Linked DNA regions of Homo sapiens: region 2 is linked to region 1. The links come from fine-mapping of genetic effects on gene expression. A gene starts in region 1. The other region holds a variant in brackets. All regions are shown on one strand. Distances are between the middles of the regions. Region 1 holds the start of B3GNT9 (UDP-GlcNAc:betaGal beta-1,3-N-acetylglucosaminyltransferase 9). Region 2 overlaps CES4A (carboxylesterase 4A).

What was found. PIP is the estimated chance that this variant, and not a neighbour inherited with it, causes the effect. A credible set is the group of variants that fine-mapping cannot tell apart.
Region 2: its variant is the best candidate, but not a certain one, in a credible set for the expression of B3GNT9 in tibial nerve (GTEx, PIP 0.53).

The regions. Positions count from the first base shown.
Region 1 is chr16:67,149,426-67,152,430 of GRCh38, reverse strand. B3GNT9 (UDP-GlcNAc:betaGal beta-1,3-N-acetylglucosaminyltransferase 9) reads left to right here and starts at 1,433. Exons shown (of 2, transcript NM_033309.3): 1 at 1,433-1,566; 2 at 1,760-3,005. The coding sequence starts at 1,946. RefSeq lists silencers at 1,478-1,637, 1,648-2,077.
Region 2 is chr16:66,998,722-67,001,221 of GRCh38, reverse strand. CES4A (carboxylesterase 4A) reads right to left here. Exons shown (of 14, transcript NM_001364782.1): 3 at 443-584; 4 at 232-365. Among named protein-coding and RNA genes, the nearest start is that of CES4A, 11 kb to the right of the region's middle. RefSeq lists an enhancer at 1-216. The variant C/T (reference allele first, on the strand shown) is at 1,445.

The sequences.
Region 1 (3,005 bases):
GGGATTACAGGAGTAAGCCACCACGACTGGCCTTTTTTTTTTTTTGAGACAGTCTCGCTCTGTTGCCCAGGATGGAGTGCAGTGGTGTGTTCTTGGCTCACTGCAACCTCCACCTTCCAGGTTCAAGCAATTCTCCTGCCTCAGCCCTCTAAGTAGCTGGGATTACAGGTGCCCACCACCATGTCTAGCTAATTTTTGTATTTTTAGTAGAGATGGGGGTTTCACCACGTTGGCCAGGCTGGTCTTGACTTCCTGACCTCAAGTGATCCACTCACCTCAGCCTCCCAAAGTGTTGAGGTTACAGGCATAAGCCACCACACCCAGCCAGAGAGGTGGCTTTTTAAGATTGAACATTGGTGGGAAGAAGCCGTCAGGAGCAGATATAGCCCTTGGACAGAGGATGGGGCTGGGTTCTTAAGAGACCAGTAGAGGCTGTCTATTCCAGGCTCCACCACATGGGCTGGGACCAAGAAAGAGAGAGCTGGCAGCTGAGCTGCGCAAGGACTTAGCTCTCCATTGCAGAGCACCTCTGTCCACCTGCATCCCAGAGCAATCCTTTAGCCAAGGCCTCCGCCAGGAGTCTTCCCAAGCTGTCCCCATCCTTGCCAGCCCTGTCTGACCTGCAGCTGCACAGGCCTGATCATTTCTACCTGCAGTAGGCTATGCTGGGGACCAGGGGACTCAGAACTGCACCTGGCTTGGGCTCAGGTCCATTAGCCCCCGGGGAGACAGGCTGAAGTGCTTGCCTGTGAAATTAAAGCAGACTGGGTTGGCCCCCTGTTCTGTATCCCAGTGGATGAATGAGCGGGGCAAGGACAGATAAAATAATCCTGGCCTGAATTTCAGAAGACCTGGGGGCAGAGCTTTCTGGCCTTTGGATCCTGGGCAAGTCACTTAACTCCCCGAAGAGCCCCCCAGTGTCCCCATCTGGGCATGAATGAGAGCTGCTGGCAGAGTTGCCCTGAGGATTGGGTGGGCTGCCTTGTTTGTCCCGTGCGTGTGTTTACTGGGGGTGGGGAGCATGGCAGAACCAGGAGTAAGAAGACAGCCATGTGTCTCGGGGGCAGCGTATGCACCCTGCCTGATGGAATCAGGGCTGCTGAGGAGAGGCCCGCCCGGGATGGTGGCCAGGTTCATGCGCATTTGGAACCGGCCTGCTCAGGGGCTCCTAGCAGCCCAGGCTCCGCCCCACTCCAGAGACGCGGGAGTGGGGAGTGGATAGTTGGGGGAGCTAACCAGGGGAGTTGATGCTTCTTCCCAATCCCCAGAAAGGCGAATTTGGGGTGTGAGCACCCAGACCAGCCCTTCCCAGAGGGACTGAGAGTGAGGAGGCTCCCTCTCAGGGATTAGTCCCCACTCTGAGGCCGGAGTGCTCCTGGCGCCGGGGCGGAGCTGAGCTCCAGAAGTCTGGGCGCGCACAGCTGGAGGGTCACGTGGCACGGCACCGGTCCCCCTTCCTGCCAACGCTGCATTTGGCTCGGGCCCGGTCCATGGCGGCCCCTCGGACCCTGCGCTGAGCCCCGGAGGCCAGGGCGTCCGGGGCTGCGCCACTTCCGAGGGCCGAGCGTGAGTGTCGGGACCCCAGGGCCCGACATTGAGGGGATGGCAGGGTGGAAGGGATTCGGCCTCAGCGCGAGGGAGGCGGGCGGGGGAGGGGCCGAGGCTCCCAGTCTCCCTGCCCGGCCCTGGGTCGCAGTCCTGGGCCGGAGCTGAGGCCGCGGGGGAGTTGGCTACATGGGTGAACTTCTTGTCCCTTCAGGCTGCCGGTCCCGGCGGTGCGACACGGCCGGGAGGAGGAGAACAACGCAAGGGGCTCAACCGTCGGTCGCTGGAGCCCCCCCCGGGGCGTGGCCTCCCGCCCCCTCAGCTGGGGAGGGCGGGGCTCGCTGCCCCCTGCTGCCGACTGCGACCCTTACAGGGGAGGGAGGGCGCAGGCCGCGCGGAGATGAGGAGGAGGCTGCGCCTACGCAGGGACGCATTGCTCACGCTGCTCCTTGGCGCCTCCCTGGGCCTCTTACTCTATGCGCAGCGCGACGGCGCGGCCCCGACGGCGAGCGCGCCGCGAGGGCGAGGGAGGGCGGCACCGAGGCCCACCCCCGGACCCCGCGCGTTCCAGTTACCCGACGCGGGTGCAGCCCCGCCGGCCTACGAAGGGGACACACCGGCGCCGCCCACGCCTACGGGACCCTTTGACTTCGCCCGCTATTTGCGCGCCAAGGACCAGCGGCGGTTTCCACTGCTCATTAACCAGCCGCACAAGTGCCGCGGCGACGGCGCACCCGGTGGCCGCCCGGACCTGCTTATTGCTGTCAAGTCGGTGGCAGAGGACTTCGAGCGGCGCCAAGCCGTGCGCCAGACGTGGGGCGCGGAGGGTCGCGTGCAGGGGGCGCTGGTGCGCCGCGTGTTCTTGCTGGGCGTGCCCAGGGGCGCAGGCTCGGGCGGGGCCGACGAAGTTGGGGAGGGCGCGCGAACCCACTGGCGCGCCCTGCTGCGGGCCGAGAGCCTTGCGTATGCGGACATCCTGCTCTGGGCCTTCGACGACACCTTTTTTAACCTAACGCTCAAGGAGATCCACTTTCTAGCCTGGGCCTCAGCTTTCTGCCCCGACGTGCGCTTCGTTTTTAAGGGCGACGCAGATGTGTTCGTGAACGTGGGAAATCTCCTGGAGTTCCTGGCGCCGCGGGACCCGGCGCAAGACCTGCTTGCTGGTGACGTAATTGTGCATGCGCGGCCCATCCGCACGCGGGCTAGCAAGTACTACATCCCCGAGGCCGTGTACGGCCTGCCCGCCTATCCGGCCTACGCGGGCGGCGGTGGCTTTGTGCTTTCCGGGGCCACGCTGCACCGCCTGGCTGGCGCCTGTGCGCAGGTCGAGCTCTTCCCCATCGACGACGTCTTTCTGGGCATGTGTCTGCAGCGCCTGCGGCTCACGCCCGAGCCTCACCCTGCCTTCCGCACCTTTGGCATCCCCCAGCCTTCAGCCGCGCCGCATTTGAGCACCTTCG
Region 2 (2,500 bases), 150 kb after region 1:
CCAGCCTTGCCCCTCTAAGACCCAGTCCTGCGACCACACCCCCTTCCTTGGAGTTAGCTCGCCCCATCCAGATGGTATGGAGCGCCCGCCCCTTCCACCGAGCGCCAGGCCCCGCCCCCGCCTCGCGGCCCCACCCCCCCCATCCCCGCCCCAGGCCCCGCCCCTCCCTTCCCACCCAGTCCCCGCCGCTCTGGCCACAGCTGCGGTCCCAAAGGGTACCGGCCCCGCCACCTCAGGAAGCCGAAGATGCCGAGCCTGTGCTGCAGAAACACCAGCACCACTTTCTCGCGGGCGGCCAAGTCAGAGCCCTCGTACGAAGAAGCAGCGCCCACGATGAAGGCGCCTCCCGGGAACCAGACCATCACCTGGACGAAGAAGGCCGGGATCTGAGCGGGGCGGTGGGCGGCGGTGGGACCGCGGGCGCGGGAGACCTGGCACTCACTGGCAGCTGGGGATCCCCGGGCGCGCGCGCCGGCGCGTACACGTTCAGGTACAGACAGTCCTCGCTGAAGCGCAGCCACTTGTACCGTTCCCGCGTGCTGACGTACATCGAGGCCAGCTGGCCCCAGGACTCCTGCAGGCACCTGCGGGCACCAGGTAGCGGCGGCGGCCGCGGGGAGATCGTTTCAATCCAGGGTCCGCAGTGAGAAGACGGAACCCAAAGCAAAATCCAGGCAGCGTCTGTGCGCGTGCGTGTGCGTGCGCATGTGCGTGCGTGTGCGTGTACAGGAGGCCTCCGCCAGCCCCGGGGCCCAGGACTGGGAGGCAGGTTGGCCTCTCAGGAACCATCCCCTCCCTGCCCGGCGCCTCAGTCCGTGGAGAGATTCCTGCTCCTGTTGGTGCTGTCAAGGCAGGAACCTGCCTGCCCTGGGCACCTCCCTGTCTTTCATGCCCCACCCTCCCCTCAGTCTCCCTTCTGCCTCCCAAACAGCTCTGGAATATGGTCCCTCCCCTCCATCCCCATCTCTGGGGAGATGTCAAGGCCACCACCGTCTCTGGTCTGGACAGTACCCCAGCCTCTTCACACTCCTCCTACTCCTCGGCCACACTCTGGCGGACTATGTCACTCCTCTTCTTCATATCTTCCCTAATATGTACAACTATGATATATCAATAAAAACAAACAAATCAACAAAAATCTTCCCTGGCTCTCCACTGCCCTCAGGATAAAGTTAAGATACGCGGAGTACCCAGGCCCTCCTTTCCATCCAGTCATCTCTGTCCCAGCCACCCTTTGCTGTAGATACATGTGGCCCCTTGCCTCCCACCTCCAAGCCCGTGGGCCTCAGTCCTCTCAAGCAAATGCCTTCTGCCCTGCCCAGCAAACTCCTATTCGTGTTTAAGGCCCAGCTTAAGTGGTGTCTCCTCTCCTGGTCACTTCCTCTTCTGTGCCTCCCGACATCCTGTCCACTTATTTTTTTGAGACAGAGTCTTGCTCTGTTGC[C/T]CAGGCTGGAGTGTAGTGGCACGATCTTGGCTCACTGCTACCTCTGCCTCTAGGTTCAAGCAATTCTCCTACCTCAATCTTGCAAGTAGCTGGGACTACAGGCACGCGCCATCACACCCAGCTAATTTTTGTATTTTTAGTAGAGTCGGGGTTTCACCATGTTGGCCAGGCTGGTCTCGAACTCCTGGCCTTAAGTGATCTGCCCACCTCGGCCTCCCAAAGTGCTGGGATTATAGGCATGAGCCACCATGCCTGGCCTCCTGTCCGCTGTTGACCATGTCCTGGTTGGAGTTATTTCAGTTGGCTGTTTTTCTCCCCAAGTGACCATGCACTTCCCAAAGGCAGGAATAGAGGTAGATTCATCTGAGTACTGGCACCCAGCCCAGTGCCTTATACTGTGTGGATATTTGGGGTATTTTTGTAGCATGGGCTCTCCGGCCACCTCACCTTTTCTCCTTGCTGGCCCAACCCCTAGGTGGCTATTCTCATAACAGCTGGGCCTGGACCATTTGATTGGGCGCAGGACACCCTGTTTGCCTCGCCTGTTCCTCTGCTCCCTTCTGCTCTTGTCCTAGCCTAGCCTGTTCCCAGAGCATCACCTGCTCCCTTTCACCAGTCCTTCCCTACAGCATTCCAACACTCCTTTGGCAGCAGCTAATGTGGTATTAGAATGCTGTCTAGTAAACCACACCTAGCACCTCACCAGGAAAGCCAGGGCTCTGATAGCTGGGAACTGGGATTATGAACAGCCAAGGCTTCTGTGCCCATCCCACCATCAGAGCCATCCTGCCATGGTCACCAGTGACATCCATCTTGCTAAATCTCTGTCATTATCTTACTTGCCCTGACAGCCCTCAACATGGTTGACCATATTATATTCCCCTTTGCTCTATCTCCTCTCTTTTTTTTTTTTGTTTGAGATGGAGTCTCGCTCTGTCGGCCAGGCTGGAGTGCAGTGGCACCATCTTGGCTGACTGCAACCTCTGCCTCCTGGGTTCAGGTGGGAGATATCAGCTCACTGCCTCAGCCTCCTGAGGCACATGCCACGACACCTAG